Linked DNA regions of Homo sapiens: all the other regions are linked to region 3. Evidence: fine-mapped expression QTL. A gene starts in region 3. Each other region holds a variant in brackets. All regions are shown on one strand. Distances are from middle to middle.

Region 1 (7,774 bases), 60 kb before region 3:
GAACAGTTTGGTGAGTTCTACCATTATTTATCCTATAACCCAAAAATTCCAGTTGTATACAACCATCTAAAAAGGAATTTATGAAATGATTTAGAAATATTTACTGAGGTGAGTAAAATGAATGTATGATGTCTGCCCTTGTGGAATTTTAAAACCTCTTTGAGAAGAAGGGGACCAATACATATTGAATGCCTTTCATGTTATGCTAGGATATTTTATTATGTAATTTGTCTAATTTAAATCCTCACAGTACTTCAAGGTAGATATTATTATCATCCCCATTTTAGAGATGAGGAGACAGCTTCAGAGAGATTATGTATTTTTGTCAAAAGCCATGTGGAAGGTAAAATGGCTCCAAAGCCTAAGATTTTTCCTTTATACGATGCTGCCGCTCCCAAAAATGTGGTTAAGTAGAGTACAAATAAACAAATATATAGAAATACAAATATTAATGCAGTCAATGAAGAGGGATAGCATTTAGGAAGTTACTTTTGAAATTGATGAGCTCTTCTTTTTATTTTGTTTATTCTCATAATTCCAACATCTTATTTTTTTCTGATTATGGCCAGAATCAGCTACAGGTATGATCGGAATAGGTTTAAAGGAGGAAAAATCCAAGATTTGAATGCTGTCAGGTGGAAGCTTTTTATATATTTTTTGTCAAACCTGAGAGATATGGTATTCTGTCTACCGAAGAAGTTAAGATTAAAAAATATATAAGCTTCTTTGGATCATACAAACACTGAACCTAGATTAGAATTCAAATCTTTTTGGTGGTTCAAAGCCCATTGTACCATTATAGAGAGACAATCATACCTCAAAGGTGTAGGAGCATAAGAACCTCCTCTCTCACCTCTTGAGGTTTGATATTTGAGTCTGAGAAATAAATAGACAATAGACCAATTGGTCTATCTATCCAAAACAAGGAGAAAAAGCACAGCGTAATTGATTTATGCGCATGGGAGCATCACAGGAAGGCGAATGCCCAATTCTAGTAGTGCTAGACCCAATAAGGTCTAGAAGTTTATATACCCTTATGCATAGGGGAGAGGGGAATGCAGGATGTAGGCAATTTTAGAAGAGTAATAAGTGATTTTTACAAGAGATGAATGGGTCCATGGAACAGACAATAGTCTGGGACAAAGTTCATCTGGGCTGTGGGTATGGTGTTTGATTTTCAGTCTTTTCCTCTGTGATATGAGTTTAATTTTCCTTGGTTAATGAAATTTCAGTAAGAAGATTGAAGACAATTGTTTTCCTCTTCAGTGGATTGGATCTTTAGGTAGATAAGGAAACTTCAGAGAAAAGTCTCTTCCTGTGCTTCAGGAGAGGAGGAGGGGCAAGAGATGGGGGGTGGGAGAAGGTCAGAGAGAAGGTCAGACCTTGGTTCTGAGGCTGCTGCTTTAGTGCAAAGTAGCAGTATGCTTCGGGGTATCATTTTCTGAGCCCCAACAAAGGAAACCTGGTATTGTGGGTAGGAGCCAATACTGTCTGAGTTCAAATCCTGACTCTGCCATGTGCAGCTTATCTCTGCTTCAATCTCCTCATCAATAAAGAGGATGATCATGATAGTACCTATCTTAAAAAAATTTTTTTTTAGTGAGGTGGGCTGTAACTATGTTGCCCAGGCTGGTCTCAAACTCCTGGGCTCAAGCAATCCTCCTGTCTCAGTCTCCCAAGTGGCTGGGATTATGGGTGTATACCACCATGCCCAGTTCAATACCCATCTTATAAGGCTGCTATTAGGATACAATATTTGTGGTGTTTATCCACCTCCTGATACTGAATAGTTTCTGTAGCGAGGTACGTAGGCACGTGAGTAGGTCAATGTGACCTACAATAACTAATGCTAATAACTAATATTGGACTACTTGTTTGCTGTTTGCTAAACTGCTGCTTGCTCAAAAAGTTCTGGGCTGTTGGCTTTGATTCTTCAGCTGTGCTGGAATCCACTGTGCACATCTATCTGTCTGGGTCTATCACTTCACCTCTTGGGACCTGGGGGGCAAGGGAGGCTGACATGGCTAAGACAATGCTTCTGTTTGCTGTGTGTAGTAAACTGTCTTGTTCTGATCCACATAGTCTCATTGTCTCCTTTCAGCACCTGTGGAGAGACAGCAGGTTTACTCCTTGCTACCTGAAGTTGGGGTTCTCTCCTGACTCTCACAGGGTTAACATTAAATGAAGAACATTAAATGAGATAATATATGCAACGCAGTACAATATCTGGTCAGTTCGATAAATATTTGTTCTCCTACATTTATATTCAATCAAAATCTAATTATCCCCAAAAGCTTGGTTTAAGTAATGTAAAACCAATGTAAAAGTAGCACCTTATATATTTATGGGGAGACCAATCCCTTTATGGACCAGAAAATTAGTTTGCCTAATAACTCAAGATATAAGAGATTAGTCTAGACCCAAAACCACATTTATTAGCCATTAAGTGCAGAGGGAGCTGGAGGGAGCTAGCAATCAAGGACCTGGGAAACAGATGAGACAGAAAATGAGTGGATGCATACAATTTGTTCATATATATTGAGTTATATTAAAAAAGCAGTATAGGCCAGGCAGTGTGGTGCATGCCTGTAATCCCAGCACTTTGGGAGGCCGAGGTGGGTGGATCACTTGAGGCCAGGATTTCAAGACCAGCCTGGCCAACATGGTGAAACCCCATCTCTACTAAACCTCGTCTCTACTAAAAGTACAAAAATTAACCAAGCATGGTAGTGCATGCCTGTAAGCCCAGCTACTCAGGAGGCTGAGACACAAGGATCACTTGAACGCAGGAGGCAGAGGCTGCAGTCAGCCGAGATGGCACCACTGCACTCCAGCCTGGGCGACAGAATGGGACTCTGTCTCAAAAAAAGAAGGCAGTATATACGGCAGCAGAAGATAATAAAAACAGTATATTTAATAGCACATTATATGATTGTTTTATATGATTGACAACATAATGGTTGATAATGCTGGTTCTAGAGGCCAGGTTCGAATCTGAGTTTGAATCCTGCCCCCAACACTTACTAGTGGGAACTTGTGTAAGTTACCCGCCCTCACTAAGCTTATTTTCCCATGACATAGGGATAATTGTTTCTTTCTCCCAGTGTGGTAGTGGATGTTAGGAGTTAGTACAAGGTTGTTCCTCTATCCTTCCTGAAGATGTGGTTTTAAAACCATTAGATGGAGTAAGCAAAGTATGCACCTGTGCTGGGGTATGGGGGTAGTCACAGTGGTCTGAATGGAGTGAGGAGAACATCCACATAAGAGAGCAGCCAGTGTGGGGTGTCAGAGCCTGAGCAGGAGGAGGAAGGTATCTACATAGGAGGGCAGGCAAACATGGGAAGTTGGTGCCTGAGGAGGTGAGGATGGTGATCACGCATGGCGAGGGGCAGCCCAGCACCAGCCATTGGAGCCCAAGTAGGATGAAGCATCCCCAGAGGGTGGCCTGACAGGGAGTGTTGGAGCCTGAGTGGGGTTAAGAGGGTGTCCACACTGCGGGGAAGAGGGTGGCCTGCTGTGGAGTGTCAGAGCCTAAAGGAAGCAAGGAGGATGTCCATGCAGAATGACCTGGCACACGGTGTCAGAACCTGAATGGAATGAAGAAGAAATGCAGGGGAGGGGACAATGGCAGGAAGGGAAATTTGTTACAAGGGCACTAATCAAAGGAATCAACCTATAATAATGAGCATACTTAATGCTCAGGTTTTAGTTTCTAGAAACTGCTTCCCACTAAAGGAATCAGGATCCCTTCGAACATTGGCTATTTTCAGTCTTCTTCACTATAGTAACTGGTAGACACCATCTTATTACAATCCAGTGATCAAACAACTATCGTTAGCAACTGGAAAATCAAAATCAGGTGCCACATGATAAGATGCAAAGAAAAGATGCATTCTGTGATATTCTTACCAAAGCCACATAACCTGAATCTAGTAATCAGGAAATATCAGACAAACCACATTGAGGAACAAAGTGGCCTGCAATGTTCAAGAGTGTCAAGGCC[A/G]CAGAAAGATCTCCATGATAAATTGCTGAGAAAGACAAGGCACCGAATAATTTGCAAAATATGCTGCCTCTGTATAAAAAGAGAAAGAAGGGGATAACAAGCTATCCATTTCTGTGTATGTGCATAAGTATACTGGAGGGCTCCTAAGATACTAAGAACACGGGTTGCCTATGGGTGTAGTGGGAACTACACTGAGGGCAGACAATGATGAGATGTTTCACTATGCATTTTTTAAAAACTTTTAATTATGAAATTCACATATTAACCATTTCAAAGTATACAATTGAGTGGCATATAGTACATTCACAATGTTATTGCAACCACCACCTCTATATAATTCCAAAACATTTTTGCAAGTTCATTTATTTGTTTGTTTGTTTTGGGATGGAGTCTCGCCCTGTCACCCAGTTTGGAGTGCAGTGGTGCAGCCTCGGCTCACTGCTAACCTCCGTCTCCTGGGTTCAAGCGATTCTCCTGGTTCAGCCTCCTGAGTAGCTGGGATTATAGGCACATGCCACTACACCCAGCTAATTTTTGTATTTTTAGTACAGACGGGGTTTCACCATGTTGGCCAGGCTGGTCTTGAACTCCCGACCCCAAGTGATCTGCCTGCCTCGGCCTCCCAGAGTGCTGGGATTTCAGGCATGAGCCACTGTGCCCAGCCCATTTTCACAACTTTAAAAGAAAACTCTGTAGTCATTAAGCAGTTCCTCCCTATCTTCCTTCTCTCCTAGCCCATGGCAACCCTCAGTCTGCTTTCTATCTCTATAAATTTACCTGTTTTGGATATTTCATATAAATAGAAACAACATGTGACCTTTTATATCTGGCTTTCACTAAGTGTAATGTCTCTGAGCTTCACCCACATTGTAGCTTGTTGTAGTAGTAGTACTTCATTCCTTTTAATGTATGAGTATGATTCCACTGTATGTATATACCACATTTTGTTTATCCCTGCACCTGTTAATGGACATTTGGGTTGTTTCCACCTTTTGGCTACTGTGAATTTTGCTGCTATGAGCATTTGTGTACAAGTATTTGTTTGAATACCTGTTTTCAATTTCTTTGGACATATACCTAGGGGTGTGGAATTGCTGGGTCATATCATAATTTTACACAGAACTTTTTTTGAGGAACTGCCAAACTTTTCCACAGCAGCTGCGCCATTTTATATTCCCACCGGCAATGTATGAAGGTTCCAATTTCTCCACGTTCTCACCAACAATTTGTTATTTTCCGTTTTTGTTGTTGTTTTAATTATAGCCATGCTAGTGGCTATAAAGCAGTATCTCATTGTGGTTTTGATTTGCATTTTCCTAATGACTAATGATGCTGAGAATCTTTTCATTTGCTCATTGGCCATTTGTATATCTTCTTTGGAGAAATATCTGTTCAAATCCTACATACCCTTTTAATGTTCTATTTTTGGAACTTTTGAATGTATTGCCTACTAAAATAAAAGAAAAAGTCATTTAATTGTCTTGGATCTTATTTTCTTCCTTTATACACTGTAGGGATTGGGCTAGATCAGAGTTTTCAACCTTGATATTATTGACATTTTGGACCAAATAATTCTTTTTTCTTTATTTTTCTTTTTTTCTTTTTTTGAGACCCCGTTTTTTTGAGACGGGGTCTCTCTCTCACCTAGGCTGAAATGCAATGGCTCAATCTTGGCTCACTGCAACCTCCACCTCCCGGGCTCTAGTGATCCCCCCATCTCTGCCTCCCAAGTAGCTGGAACCACAGGTGTGCACCACCATGCCCAGCTAATTGTTTGTATTTTTGGTAGAGACAGGTTTTCGCCATGTTGTCCAGGCTGGTCTTGAACTCCTGAGCTCAAGCAATCTGCCTGCCTCGGCTTCCCAAAGTGCTGGGATTACAGGAGTGACCCACCGCAACCAGCCACAAATAATTCTTATTTTGTGACTTGTCCTGTGCATAATAGGTTGCTTAGCAGCATCCTTGGCCTCTACCCATTAAATGCCAGTAGTCCCTCCCCCACCCAGGTTTGACAACCAAAAATGTCTCCAGGCATTGCCAAATGTCCCCTGGGGAGCACAGTTGCCCCTGGTTGAGGACCACTGGAGATCAATGGCCCCACAGGCCCCTGAACCTGGATCAGTTTGCAGGTAGTGTTGTGGCTTTGCAAACTATTTTCAAAAACAAAGAAAAATAACCAACAAATTGTACATTTATTTTAATAAAGACACTATAGACTAAGACCTCATGTGTCTTTGCTTTTGCTTGGAATGAAGTCACCTTAAAATACGAATACTGGTGGATCATCATGGGTCAGAAGCTCTGACTGGCATTTATTTATGTATCTGATTATTAAAATGGGAAACAAATTTTAAATAAGTAATGTCTTTGAGTTTTGTAAATCATAGATTCAATCTGTGGGGGCGAGTAGATAATAAAAGAAGTCTGTGGATGAAATGGCTGGAAACCACTCAAGTAGATGATCAGTGTTCAATACTGACTTTAAACACTTTTCTGTTTTTTGCCATGGTTCCAGCGGGTGGCAGTGGTGAATTTGGAATAAGAGTTCTGTTTGCCACATAAGCACTTCAAAGTTAATCAGTACAAATAGGACTTCACTGTTCTCAAAACACTAAAGGAAACAAAACAAAACCTCATGGAATTTTCCCCATAGTATCCTGTGCCATACAGTCTCCCCCCACCTCCTTCACCCCTCAAATGTCTCCATTGAATCCAATTTTAAAAAATAAAGCTTATTCTACTTCCTCATCTATTACCCTGTTGCCAGAGGTATCTGACCTCCTTTCCTTCAAAACAAACCGAAGACCTGGACATTTTAGTTGGATATGGGTAACCTTTGTTGGTTACCCATGACTAGCAGCCTAAAACAAACTCCTTCATCTCTTTCCCTTCTGTCCCATGAACCGCAAAGCTGGCCCTTGCACCGCCGGCCATGCTTTTTCTCACAACTCCACGTACTTACACAGGACGTTCTTACCACCTAGAAATCCCTCCCCATTTGCTTTGCCTGAAAAATGCCTCCTCATCTAATCTCCATGGCCCCACTCAAATGGGCACTTCATATCTGAAGCTTTCTCTGACTTCCCTAGGTAACTAATTGTTCTGTCACATGGGCTCTACCCCACCTGTTTTAGCACTAACTACACTCTCTTTTAGAGAAAAAGGTATTTTATTCATTAACCCTTTGTTGCTATTACTAGTCATTTACTAGCACATAATTAGTTCCCTGGCACATAATGGCAAATTTCTGGAATGAATAAATTAATGAATAACTGACTTGAGAGACTTGGACTTTAAAAATTTGCACCAATTCAAACATATATATATATATGCCAAAAAAAAGGGGGGTGGAATCAGGGTGTCCACCCTTCTTACTCAAAAGAATGGAATATACTGAACAGTAGAGCATTCTCCTGCATCAGCCTCCCGAGTAGCTGGGACTACAGGCGCCCGCCACTGCGCCCGGCTAACTTTTTTTGTATTTTTAGTAGAGACGGGGTTTCACCGTGTTCGCCAGGATGGGCTCGATCTCCTGACCTTGTGATCCACCCGCCTCGGCTTCCCAAAGTGCTGGGATTACAGGCATGAGCCACCGCGCCCGGCCCTAGATAGCCTATATATTCTATTGGCTCCATTACTTGTGCTATTAGCCTTAACTTCTTGATTAGGGAACTATCTGCCAGGTTTCTTCATTGCAAAGTTACCTTTTAAAATTGTATTATTAAGAAGTATTTTGTGAAGGTACTTTGAGGCTATGTAGTTATCTCATTC
Region 2 (7,774 bases), 160 kb after region 3:
TGCCTGTTCTGACGTTACGTTACGTTACGTTACGTTACGCTACGCTACGCTACGCTACGTTACGTTACGTTACGTTACGTTACGTTACGTTACGTTACGTTACGTTACGTTACGTTACATTATGCAGGTCCAGAAACAACTTGAACTCCAGACTCTGCTCTCTGACTATTCCATTATTGGATTTATTTCAGTTTGTGATAACCAGACTGGATTACTGTGCTCAAGAGGGACCAGGCTCTTTAGTCTCAGGCTCCATGCTGTTCCCTCCTGCCATGGCCTACCCTACTGGCAAAGCTTCATGTGCTCTGATGTCCCTTGTTGCCTTGGCAGTTAGTCACTAACATCTCATAGTCATTTCTTTGCCATTGTGAATAGTGCTGCAGTGAATATTCACATGCATGTGTCTTTATGATAGAATGATTTATAGTCCTCTGGGTATATACCCATAATGGGATTGCTGGCTTGAATGGTAGTTCTGCTTTTAGCTTTTTGAGGAATCACCACACTGCTTTCCATTGCAGCACTATTCGTAATAGCGAAGACATGGAATCATCCTAAATGCCCATTGATGACAGATTGGATAAAGGAACTATGGTATATATACACCATGGAATACTACACAGCCATAAAAAAGAACCAGATCATGTCTTTTGCAGGAACATGGATGGAGCTGGAAGCCATTATCCTTAGCAAACTAACACAGGAACAGAAAACCAAATACCACATGCTCTCACTTATAAGTGGGAGCTAAATGATGAGAAATCATAAACACAAAGAAGGGAACAGCAGACACTGGGTTCTCCTTTGAGGGTGGAGGAGGGGAGGAGGGAGAGGAGTGGAAAATAACTGCTGGGTGCTAGGCTTAGTACCTGGGTGATGAAATAACCTGTACAGCAAACCCTGTGACACAAGTTTACCTATATAACAAACCTGCACGAGTATCCCTGAACCTAAAACAGAAGTTTTTTCTAAAAAAAAAAGTTACTTCTTAGAGGTGCTCTGCAATACCTTCGTCAAAGGGTAGCTCATAGCCGTTTCTCCACTGAGTCTCCATACTGCTGCAATAGATTATATTTCATAGCTCTTTCCAAAAAGTCTTTTTGAACTAAACTTGTGTAAGTCCCTAAAACATTAGTAGAGGAGGCCGGGCACGGTGGCTCATGTAATCCCAGCACTTTGGGAGGCTGAGGCGGGCAGATCACCTGAGGTTGGGAGTTTGAGACCAGCCTGACCAACATGGAGAAACCCCATCTCTACTAAAAATACAAAATTAGCCGGGCATGGTGGCAGGGGCCTGTAATCCCAACAACTCAGGAGGCTGAGGCAGGAGAATCGCTTGAACCCAGGAGGCGGAGGTTGCAGTAAGCCGAGATCACGCCATTGCACTCCAGCCTGGGCAACAAGAGCAAAACTCCATCTCAAATTGTCACACTTGAAGCTGCCATTTAGACTGTGTCCTTTGGGTCCCTGAGGTGGGATATGGCCCACTGTCTCTCTTGTAGCCTCATGTCCTTCAGTGTGTTATTTGCCTTTCCTAAATGAATCCTATCCCTACTGTCACCTCCAGATGAAACAAGGATGCATTAGTAACACTAGTCCCCAGTCTCTCAGTTCCCCAGGTGTAGCCCTACCATACCCTGGGTTATATTTTTAAAGGAATGGAGACCATGACTATAGGCTGCGTAAGAGTCAAGTTACTCAACTATTTATTAAGCACCTTTTTATGCCCACTACCAAGGAGTTCCTGGCACTCAGCTATCATCACTAGTCTCAACAGGAATCCCTGGAAGGGTGATTACATCACATGCTTTTCACAGCCCCCTTGACCTCCAATAGCTGTGGTGTAATACTGGGTGATCATGGACACAGAATAGAGCAAGTCTAGGCCGCAGATGACCCCAAGGCAGATGCAATGCAGCTGACTCTCACATCCTCCTCCATCCTTCAAAAGGTTCAGAGTAAACAGTGCCTTTATGTTATGGTCATTATTCTGTGATTCCCTTCTCTGCTTCATTACCTCATGTCTGTTGCTTTGACTATAAACACAGACCAAATGCCAAGACAGAGAGTAAAGTCACCAGGAAACCCAGCTCCAGTGCCAAACCCACCTTTGCACCCTTGGACTGCAGCTATGTTTGTTTAAGGATGGCAGGAAAAAGGTGCACACATGGCTCAGTGCTCATTTGCTTCCTGCTCTGTTAGGTATTAAACCTCAGAAACTAGGGCAACTCTCAGTCTCTCTCGCTATAGCCAACTGACTAGAACATTAACCTCCAGTTTAACATCTGATATGGTTTGGCTGTGTCCCAACCCAAATCTCATCTTGAATTGTAGCTCCCATAATTCCCACGTGTTGTAAGAGGGACCTGGTGGGAGATAATTGAATCATGGGGGCGGTTTCCCCCATACTGTTCTCATGGTAGTGAATAAGTCTCACAAGATCTGATGGTTTTATAAGGGGACACCCCTTTTGCTCGGTTCTTATTCTTTACTTGCCTGCTGCCATGTAAGACGTGCCATTCACGTTCTGCCATGATTGCGAGGCCTCCCCAGCCACATGGAACTGTGAGTCCATTAAACCTCTTTTATAAATTACCCAGTCTTGGGTATGTCTTTATCAGCAGCATGAAAACAGACGAATACAACGCCCAATGAGTGTTTGCCTCCTCTCCTCTTCTCTTCTTTTTTCTTATCTCCTCCCAAGTTCCTGTAAGCTAAACACCATAATGTAATAAGCAAGAAGTATATGTTGCAGGATTTCTCTTGTTTATGGTTCTTATAGAAAAAATATTGTTGATTATCTTAACCTGCATGTAACTTATAATAACAAAAAGATTCCTGTCAAATAATTCTCCCTTAATAAATTCCCTTTGCCATTATAAACTAAGACATGACCTTGAAGAATTAATACCCAGACAATACAACATTTGTGTGTTATTTAATTAGCTTACTGCTTTTGTTAATGTACATTCCTGTGGTCACACACCACTTTCCACTCAAACCTAAAAAAAATGCTACACGGGATGAAAAACTTTTTTACCAGTGTGTCCATATTTATGCTCCCTTAAAAATCGTTTTTAACCTCCTAGCCAGGAGTTTTGAGGTTATCTCAGGACAATAGCTAATTTATTAAGTCCTAGACAATTATAACAACAATAAGCCTTTGTGCAAACTTTTGGCATACTAGAGATTTGGGGTTAAAAAAAGAGAGAGAGAGAATTTGTCAGATCCAGCAGAGACCACTGTCATTTTGGTACCATCTAATCCCCATTATGAAGTGATTTTTATCAAACTGGGAAGTGATCATCTGGCAGCATAAACGACACTGGAGAAACGAATTCAATACATCAGAGAGGTTATTCCATGTCATCTACATGCTCAAACAGGAGAGACAGAGAACATTGGCTCTCATAAATCCTTAGTTTCCGGCCAAAGGCCTCTCAGAGCTCTTGGCTGCCTAATCAGATGTCTGGGATTGTGAAAGCAAATGAAGTTTATGGAGCTGAGGGGGAACTTCTGATTTACCATAAAAAGGAGGTTTGAACT[G/A]GATAACTTTTTCAGTATTCTACATAATTATCTGATAATTATGTAATTATCTAATAATTATTATCTCCATTTTACATATGACACAACGAAGACTACAGAGAGTTGAGAAACTTGCTCACAGTCCGGCAGCAAGGAAATGATGGATTCAGAATGCAAATCTTCCCACCACACCCACATCACAGAGGAAGCTGCAGATCTTTACCGGTGATTCCATTTCAGCGCCCCCAGGTTGCCCAGTCTGGGCATGATGTAGTAACCCGGTGACTCACAGCACCGCACTCATGAGGTTGAGAGTCATTCAGTGATTCAGCAAGTACTACTGGGCAGCTACTGTGTGCCAGGCACTGGTCTAGGTGCTAGGGATACAGCAGTGAATGGAAAAAACTGCTGTCCTCACCGAGTTTACACTCTACTCAGGGGTAATAGATAAATAAATAAGTACATAATAATGTCAGGTAGTGATGAGTGCGATGAACACAGATAAGGAAGGGCAGGGGGCAGTGGCTCATGCCTGTAATTCCAGCACTGTGGGAGGCCAAGGTGGGATGATCGTTTGAGGCCAGAAGTTTGAGACCAGCCTGGGCAACACAGCAAGACTCTGTCTTTACAAAAAATAGAAATAAAAAATAACTGGGTGGGATGGTGTACGTCCATGGTCCTAGTTACTTGGAAGGCTGAAGACAGAGCAGCAGGAGGATCATTTGGGGCTGGGAGGCGGAGGCTGCAGTGAGCCAAGATTGTGCCACTGCAGTCCAGCCTGGGCTACAGAGTGAGACCCTGTCTCAAAAATAAATAAATAAATAAAATTTAAAATTATATGTATTTGAAAAGAAGAAGAATACATTTGAGCAAAGACTGAAGGAAATTAGGGGAGAGGGAAGAAAGTGACCCATGTGGTATCTGGGAAAGAGCATTTCAGGCAGAGGGAATATCAAGGGAAGGGCCTAAGCAGGAAGCTTAGACAGTTAAGGAAAAGTTCTTAGAATATTGCGCCAGGCTGCAGCAGAGCGAGCAAAGTGGTAGTTGAAAGAGATGAGGGGCATGGGGTGGCAGGGATGGAGGGGATCAGGAAGAGCCCTATGGCTTCTGAAAATAATTGGGATTTTACTCAGTCTGGAAGTCTTTGGAAGGTTTTCTGTAGCAAAGTGATATAGTCTGATTTACATTTTAAGAAACTCACTCTTAGTTGCCAGCTAACTTGGCTGTCACCAGTTAGCAAGGCCCCAAACCACAAACAGAATGAGAGGTAAGATGATAGTGCAAAAAGCACAGGTTTGGGAACTAGATCTGTTTCCAAATCTCAGCCTTCATCATCTGCTGGCTCTATTAACCTTGCAGTTGTTACTGTAGCCTCTCTGAGCCTCAGTTTCCTCAACTGCAAAAGGAAAAAATAACCTCCTCTATACTTATTAATTAAATATAAAGCACATGAAATATAGTAGTTAGCACTAAAAAATAAAAAATAAAAAAACCAGCCTTGTAGTTATTCGATTTAGTGATCAACTATTGAGTTACTTTATCATTATTAAAAATAATGCAGGCAAAAATTAGCCAGGCATGGTGGTACACACCTGTAGTCGTAGCTACTCAGGAGGCTGAGACACAGAATTGCTTGAACCTGGGAGGTGGAGGTTGCAGTGAGCCGAGATCGCACCACTACCCTCCAGCTTGGGTGACGGAGGGAGACTCTGTCTAAATAAATAAATAAATAAATAATACAGGCAAGACCTGGATTGAATAATATGTCTTCTCTGCCACTAGAATAATCACAACAAAAAATTAACAGTGGGGAAAAAATGAAAGAAAGATGTGCTCTTCCTTGCTCTTAAAAAACAACCCGGAAAATTGTATCCTAGGAAATTTTTAAGTATATACAAATAATTGTAAAGCAAGTAATGAATCTTAGTTCATTGTACATAGTTTCAGTAATTAGCATTTATCCAATCTTATTTTATCTTGTTTTTCTGGAATATTTTAAAGCAAATACCAGATATATTATCATTTCAACTATAAATCCTTCAGTTTGTATTCCTAACAGAAAAGAAGTTTTTGTTAACATAACTCCAATACAATGATTGTGTCGAACAAAACTAGCAATCATTTCTTAGTATCATCTAGTTAGTACCTAGTCCATGTGCAGATTTCTCAACTATCTCAAAAGTATCCTTTTACAATTATTTTGCTCAAATCAAGATCTAAACTAGGCCCATCAATTGCAGTTAGCTGATAAGGCTGTCAAGTCTCTCTTTATTTATTTATTTATTATTATTTATTATTTTGAGACGGAGTTTTTTTGTTCTTGTCGCCCAGGCTGGAGTGCAGTGGCACGATCTCAGCTCATTGCAACCTCCACATCCTGGGTTCAAGCGATCCTCCTGCCTCAGTCTCCTGAGTAGCTGGGATTACAGGCACATGCCACCACTCTTGGCTAATTTTTGTATTTTTAGTAGAGACAGGGTTACACCATATTGGCCAGGCTGGTCTCAACCTCCTGACCTCAGGTGATTCACCCGCCTTGGCCTCCCCAAATGCTTAGATTACAGGCGTGAGCTACCTCGCTTGACCTCAAGTCTCTTTTTATCTGCAACAGTCTCTTCTTCTTCTTCTGCCCCTTCCCCTGCTCCTCCCCTACTCCCTCTCTCTCTTCTCTCCTCCTTCCCCATCACCTCTCCTCTGTCTTTTGCTTTGAAAAAACTGTCCCTCTACATGCAAAGACATCAAATACTATACTGGGGACACTCTCCAGTGCTTCAGAGAGGAGTAAGAGGAATGCTTTTTTGTTTCCAAGAGAGGAGGTGAATACTATGAACTCCCGTAGAGAAAATACCATGTAATATGGTGAGGAGATGGCTGAGAGCCGACTTAGACTTTTTAATATGGGTATAAAGGGCTGTCATGGAAACGGACCATATGATCTGAGGCTTCTCTTCCAGTCCTAGAATTATCTGGGATCTATCAAGAGATAGGTATTTAGATGATTACCATGGGAAAATGACCAACAGAATTTCCTGTTTTCTGTTAAGGAGCAACCAGAAAATGTTTCCTTGTTGGTTAGAAATGACAAAAGTGTTTCCTTCCTGCCTGGTGGAAAGGAAGGGGATAGGCCGGTTGTCACTATGAAAGGCCGATGCTGCCCTTAGCACTGATGGCCTAATTGGGTTGGTTTAGCTAAATCCAACTCTGGAGTCATAACTAAAGCTAGTCAGCCTTTATTAATACTGTCAGGTAATTCTTAGAACAAGACTAAAAAGAATTACAGGGATACTGATAAATTCTGAATGAGCAGAAGTGGTTTTTTGAGATGAGAGAAAAGAAAACCAGGTTAAGATAGCTCCTTTTGATTCCATACCATGGTATAAGTAAGTTTTGCCAAAGGATCACTTGTGGAAATAACTACCAAGGTGCTAAACTTTCAAGATCTTGTCCAAGAAGTGACTTCTGAAAGCAAGTACAAAAGTCACATTTAGATATTGGTTCCCATACAGTTAAAGAAAGTGTATTTATTTAATTACTTTATTTAACTATCAGGTACAAAATCCCTTTGCAGACTTTAATAAAACCTGGGATCATGCCACTTCACTCCAGCCTGGGCAAAAGAGCGAAACTCTGTCTCAAAAAATATACATATATATGGTGATAAAGTTTCCCATTTTCCAATGCAGCTTCACATTTGAACAGCTCTAATTGATACAGCATTATGGCAGGGTTTTTGTGTGTGAGTGAGATCCAAAACACTCAATCATGTAAAAGGGTACAGTCCTGTTGTATGTTAACACACTGATCATATAAGCCTATGAGATGAGCCAATCACCAATTATGTTACAGTCGAATCTGCTTTGTGTTGGGATGCTTTAATGTAGGGTTTCACTAAATAAATGAATTTTCATATACTGAACTGAAAAAAAAGACCAAAATTAGAAATGAAGTATATTTGTATTCATTGCAAATTATTTTGGACTTGGGAATCCTTTTGAAATGCCCACGTGAATCAACAAGCAGTGGGAGGTGAAGAAAAAGAGCGTGGTCTCCCACTCATAGCTAATTCTGGCTCTGGTAATCAGAGAAACATAAGAGGCAGCCAAGTAAGGACTGGCAGCTCCAACCGGCTTGTTTTGTTATTTTGTCTTTGACTCAGTAGTCAACCTTCCTTTGGCATTCATTGGAGTGTGACCTAGGACTAGGCCCACTGTGTTCTGAGTATAATAATTCCTCATCAAAATGTAAAGCC
Region 3 (5,746 bases):
AACCATTTTTCAAACTTAGCAGCTTAAATTTGTTGATTTATTCTTCAAATTCATGTTTATTGAATGCTTACTACATGCAATGTATTTTAATGGAAATATTTCCCTCTGGTAAAACAAAATATATTTTACCTTTTATTGATGACTCTGTAAGATACCAATATATGAAAAAAGGATTTTAGCTGACTTCAAATATACCAGCCAACATCACATTAGGTTACAGAAATATAAGCCATAGAGCTAAGTTAAGGAAAATGTTAGTTCTATTCTATGTTGATCAGACAAACCTGGAGTTGAGTTCTACATGCACAGTGTAAGACAAGCTGGGGTATATCTGAAAAGAGGTGATTAAGATGGTGAAAAGTGTGGGAATCCTGTCATATGGGTGTTTAAACTAAAAGGATAGTTAAGATGAAAATTATTAAAACTTTACTTTAAATCATTGAATACCTACCAGAAGAGAAATTGGACTTATTCTGTATGGTTGCAGATGACTAACCTATAAACACAGAATTTTAAGAAGAGAAACATCCCACTTAAATAGAACAACAGTGCCAAAAATGAGCAGAATTGCCTTTGAGGCTCTTGTTTATGGAGATTTTTAGAACAGAAACTGGATGACCTTTGGACAGAGGCTTTGTGGAAAGGGGTTTTGATGGAGTGAGAAGTTGGGCTCAAGGGTCCCTCCTGATTCTGAATGTCTTACGCTCCACTAGGAACCTCACTTACTCTACTAAGTTACCGGAGAGTGATGCCTTTATAGCTTTTTCGTCCTTTGTTTCTGCACTAGAAGGCCTCAGACTGCTGTGGATGTTTTGGTTTTGTTTTTGTACTTATGGCTGCTTTTTAGAGTTTTCCCATCCTTCTCATTACTGGATTGCCTCAGTTTATCCCCTGTCTTTAATAACATCCTGCTCCATTCTAATCTGTTACTTCTAATAGGCTGTGATCTAGAAAGATGTCATAACCAAACTTAATAAAAATACATGAATGATTTAAGTGAGGTCCTGAAGGGCTCTCCTGTGAGTAAAGTCTTTGGTGCAAAGAGTTTTGCCATTTATTTTATTTTATTTATTTTGAGACAAGGTCTCACTCTGTTGCCCAGGCTGGAGTACAGTGGTGCCAACACAGCTCACTGCAGCCTCGACCTCCCAGGCTCAAGCTATCCTCCCACCTCAGCCTCCCAAGTAGCTGGGACCAGAGGCATATGCCACCACGCCTGGCTATGCCATTTATTTTACTTTTTAAAGACCCTTTTAACTTCCTTTCAAGTTCTCAGGAATATTCTAGATTTAACTTATCAATTTTGTGGTTTCTGGGAATTGTTATTGAAATTCTGTAAGTTTGCTAAGCTTCCTACTAATTCATAAAATTACAAAATATTCTGAATCCATGACTGATGTTTTCAAAAACAAAATCATAGGCAATAATATACTTATCCAAGATTTTTCTTATGTAGGTAACCTTTTCTTGGATAGCTTCTTCAAAATGAAAATATCCTTTGTAACTAAACTGGACTATATAAGCAAATGATGTTTATTAGAATGCTGACTATTTTTCTCTCCTGAGCTTTTCATATAGATAGTATTGGTGTCGAATGTGCAGATTCCTTTTGAATATGGGAAATCATTGTGATATAACTGGTTTTCTCCTTAGTCCTTAGTCTCCTTAGCCCCTTAGTATATAACAATAGTTTTAACACAACTCAGTCAAAAACATGTAATGAACACTTATTGTAGGTGTTCTTGGCTAAGAATAAGGAAAAATATCAGAAAAACATAGTAATGTTTTGTATAAACTGAATATTAAAGACTGTTCTACCATTAGAGAGCTTTCTGTCTTGTTAAAGGAAATAAGAGCCAGTTATTCAGCAAAGAAATATATTATCAATGCAGGATTCGTGCAGACAGTAAATGGCTTTGAAATTTGTAATGAGATATGGAGTAGTTCTGTGATTGCTTTGGCAGCACATATGCTAAAATTGGAACAATACAGAGAAGATTAGCATGGCCTCTGCATGAGAATGGCATACAAATTTGTGAAGCATTCTATATTTTTAGCAATATATTGTACTCTTGAAAAATGCTAAGACAGTGAGTGTATTCTTAAATGCATGTTAATATGCAAAAATGCATATGTTCATTGGCTAGATTTAGTCATTCCACGCTGTATACATATTTCAAAACATCATGTTGTACATGATAAATACATACAAGTTTATTTGTTAATTAAAAAACAGAAATGGATTAGTTCTGCCTAAATATACTAGACTCAGAAGTTAATAATAAATGTGCATCCACCCCTTTGTTTAATTTGCCTTGGCTATTAAGTTAACATTTATGCTAAGAACCTTTGGCTGTTATAGTTTCCTATCATTTATTTGGTAAAAAGATTAATTGGAGAGGTGTTTCAATGGCTCCATTAGGAGATATGAAGAAAGCCCCACCATTGCCAGTATTTGGGAACTCAAAGCGTTTATTTTCTAAAGCAGGTGATGCTACATGAATTGCTGTCCACACCTTCTGCTACTTTCCTCTGTTGGCCAGAAGAATAATTTTAATGTCGCCCAAATGGATTATGCTGACCTCAACCCAGATCCCCCTGGGAGATATAAACTTCTTATATGTTCCTGGCTGGGTCATTGTAAATAATATCTACATGTATCCCAAAGCTCTGAATTATCCTCATCTGTAACAGACACAACGACTAAATGGTATCTGGAACGTAGTTAATTTTCTGGAAAATATTCAAAGGAACAAAATGAGCACTGCAATACAAAATTGCTGTCGACTTAACTTTTGCCAGTTTCCCTGGATGTGTAAGTAGAATTATATTTTCACAGAACTTGCAAAAATCTCAGACTCGGCTGCTATTTAATCTCTTTCCAGAAGCACCAGCCCTGAGCAATCCTATCTGCAATTAGCTGCGTGTGGTTGCTACTAAATTGCTCCCCATAAGTTAGTTCCTAACACTGTTTCACAGCACGGCATACTCTATAAAGGGAGAACGCTTGGAAGGACCGAAGAGTTCCCTTTGTCGTGCCCTTGCCCTGCCTCTGGACAACGATGTTCTTACACTGCCGACTAGCTAATCCTGTGACCCTTTTCTTTCAGCACCTTGAGTTTGAGTTAGGCAATACCTCTTACACCAAAGTGGGCACACCTTCGGATCATGTAGGCAGCGATTGTTTAGCCGAGACATCCCCCTACCCCCGCAAAAGGCAGCAGAGAAGCGGCGAACGCCGCTTAGCAGTTGGCGCGCTCTCAGTGCGGGTGACGCGGGGCTGGGTTGGGGTGTTCCGTCCCCGGGTCGTGGGACTCCCCGAGAGGGGGTGGCTGGAGGAGGAGGGAGGGCTTGTTTCGCTGGGGGATGTGGGAAGTAGGCGCTAGCCTGTTTCGCGGTTTTTTAAGCCCCTTGGCATGCCCTGACCTGATCTAGAGGGAGTCTACTGCTCTTAGGAATGTTCCGGGAGAAGGTGGGAGATTGCTTCCCAGGGGAGGCCTGTGGGTGCTGCAGGGCACCAGGGGGGTCACTAGGGAGATGCAGGGCGCGGGCCAGGAGGGGCGCCAGGGCAGCCGGGGGCCAGGCTGAGGCGACCGGGACCAGCGGGCAGCCGGGCGTCGGGGGCGTCGGTCGGGGCGCGGGGGACCCCCCCCCCGGGCGGCAGCGGCAGCGGCGATCCGATCCCGCGGGCTGCGCCGCCCGGGCTGTCAAGCGCGGGGGGCGGGCGGGAGGAAGGGGTGGAGGTGCGAGGGGAGGAGGGCTGGCACCGGAGCGCCGCGGCGTCGGTGCAATAAAAATGCATCGCATGGAACTGCCCGTGGAGAAGGACGGGACGGAGCCGGGGCAGCCAGAAGAGGTGGGAAAAGCGGAGGAGGACGCCCAGGAGGAGGCGGCGGCGGCGGCCGGGAAGTGAAAGGTCTCGCAAAGTTCAGCGGCGGCTGCGGGCGCCGAGCCCCGGGCTAGCGGCAGACGAGCCCGCAGGGCCGCTCCGCGGGGCAGCGCAGCCAGGCCGGCTATGGTCCCGGGGCTCCCGCCGCCCCCCAGGTGCCCGGGACCCGCCAGGCCGGTGCGCGAGGGTCACCCCACCTCCCCGCGCGGTCCCGGCCCCTGGCTCCCAGCTGCCGGCGACCGCTGACCGAGCCCGGCGCCCCAGGAGGAGGAAGAAACCAGGGCCCCGTTCCCTCCCGAGGACGGCGGCGCTTCATCCCGCAGCCCAGAGGTCTCGGCTCCCTCCGGCACCCGCCCGGCCCGGCTGCTCCCGGCTCCTCCCGGCCATGGGGAGCTGCGCGCGGCTGCTGCTGCTCTGGGGCTGCACGGTGGTGGCCGCAGGTGGGTGGTGACGCGGCGGGGCCCCCACCCCTTCCCTCGCTGCTTCTCTAACCCATCTCGGGACTCGGGGGTGCAGGGGAGCCAGGGCTGCGAGCGCAGAGCGCTGCTCCCGAGGGTGAAATGAGTGGCCATGTTCCGCCTCCTTTCCCCGGGGCTCCGCAGTTTCAAATACTATTGATTTATTTTTACAACTGGGATACACATGCGCTTGGATAACCAGCTATCCTGGGTGCGCCCTGCCGGGGATACTGCGACCGGGGTTTCTTTCTTGGTTTGGCTTGTTAAAAAACTGCTTTTCCACTTGGTGAGGGAACAAAGGACCCAGCTCGCCATCCCCCGGCACTTCATGGCCTAAGGAATGATGAGGAGGGGTGGCCCAGCGACCCTGGGCGCGCGTGGGCTGGGGCCGGTCTCTGGTAGAAGCCCATCGCTGGTGTCCCTGACCTGGTGCTGGGTACTAGAGAACCAGGTAAGGACACCTGGGGCAGGGCTGAGCGCCCTCTCCCCGGAGCAGTGACTGGAACGCAGTGGGACTCCTGGCTTGGACGATAGGTGGTGATCACCCCGGGCTTGCATTGAGCTGGCTGGCCGCCCCTGGGGAATTGGTACCCTGGCAGAGACTCTGCGGGAGGTCGGAGGCGGGTCTGCTCCCTGGCTCGGTAACTGGACAACCGGCGTCGGCGTCGGCAGATGCCCTCTCCCTCCCACTCCCATCCTGGCTTTCTTGGGCTGCCCTAGGCCACCGGCTCCTGGCTCGTGGTTTCTGTATTCGGGAGCCCCTTCTGCTCCTCTCCCTCCCTCTTGCGGGTCACCTGGTTTCCAGTTAGGCGTAAGCGCAGCCCTGTAGGTGAGGGGGAGAGATGTGAGGGAGTCTGCAGACATCCAGTCTCTCGTGCGGATCTTGACTGCTTCAGAAAGGGGCGCCTGGGCTAGAGGGATGCGCTGGTGGCTACAGAACATTGTAGCACGCATCTCCTCCCTTGGGCTTCCACTCTTCCCTGAGGGCCGCTGGCACCCAGCAAAATCCAGGCTTTCCAGTCTGCATCCCAAACCAGTCCAAGTCACAGGAGCATCCTTAGTATCATTGAATAGTCCCTTGAGTGACTCCAAGTATTTTGCCCCATGGATTCTTTATCTGGCTCAAATCTTTTCTGGACTTAGGAGTTTAGGGGCATTTAAAATTATTGGATATTTTTCCCAGGGACCTATTAAAGGCCTAAGATTTTACTTTAATTCTTGCACTCTTAAAATATGAGCTTTAAAAAAAACCTTTTCCTTCTCAAACCATATTATGGCAAAAACATGCAAGCCATTGAAAGGTTGTAAATAAACATCACAAGGCAAGTGTTTCAAGTCAAAAATACTTGTACAGGCAGTATATGATTTTCCTTGAAATTTTTTACAGGTGAGTCATAGC

The links. PIP is the estimated chance that this variant, and not a neighbour inherited with it, causes the effect.
Region 1: its variant is the best candidate, but not a certain one, in a credible set for the expression of NTN4 in whole blood (INTERVAL, PIP 0.78).
Region 2: its variant is the best candidate, but not a certain one, in a credible set for the expression of NTN4 in breast (GTEx, PIP 0.77).

What each region holds. Positions count from the first base shown.
Region 1 is chr12:95,847,978-95,855,751 of GRCh38, reverse strand. All of the region lies in intron 1 of SNRPF-DT (SNRPF divergent transcript), which reads left to right. Among named protein-coding and RNA genes, the nearest start is that of SNRPF-DT, 7.0 kb to the left of the region's middle. RefSeq lists cis regulatory regions at 4,666, 5,589 and enhancers at 4,594-4,738, 5,517-5,661. The variant A/G (reference allele first, on the strand shown) is at 4,004.
Region 2 is chr12:95,629,464-95,637,237 of GRCh38, reverse strand. No RefSeq gene overlaps it. Among named protein-coding and RNA genes, the nearest start is that of USP44, 82 kb to the right of the region's middle. RefSeq lists an enhancer at 3,080-4,279. The variant G/A (reference allele first, on the strand shown) is at 3,547.
Region 3 is chr12:95,788,838-95,794,583 of GRCh38, reverse strand. NTN4 (netrin 4) reads left to right here and starts at 3,820. Exons shown (of 10, transcript NM_021229.4): 1 at 3,820-4,329. The coding sequence starts at 4,275. It also overlaps the pseudogene RNU6-247P.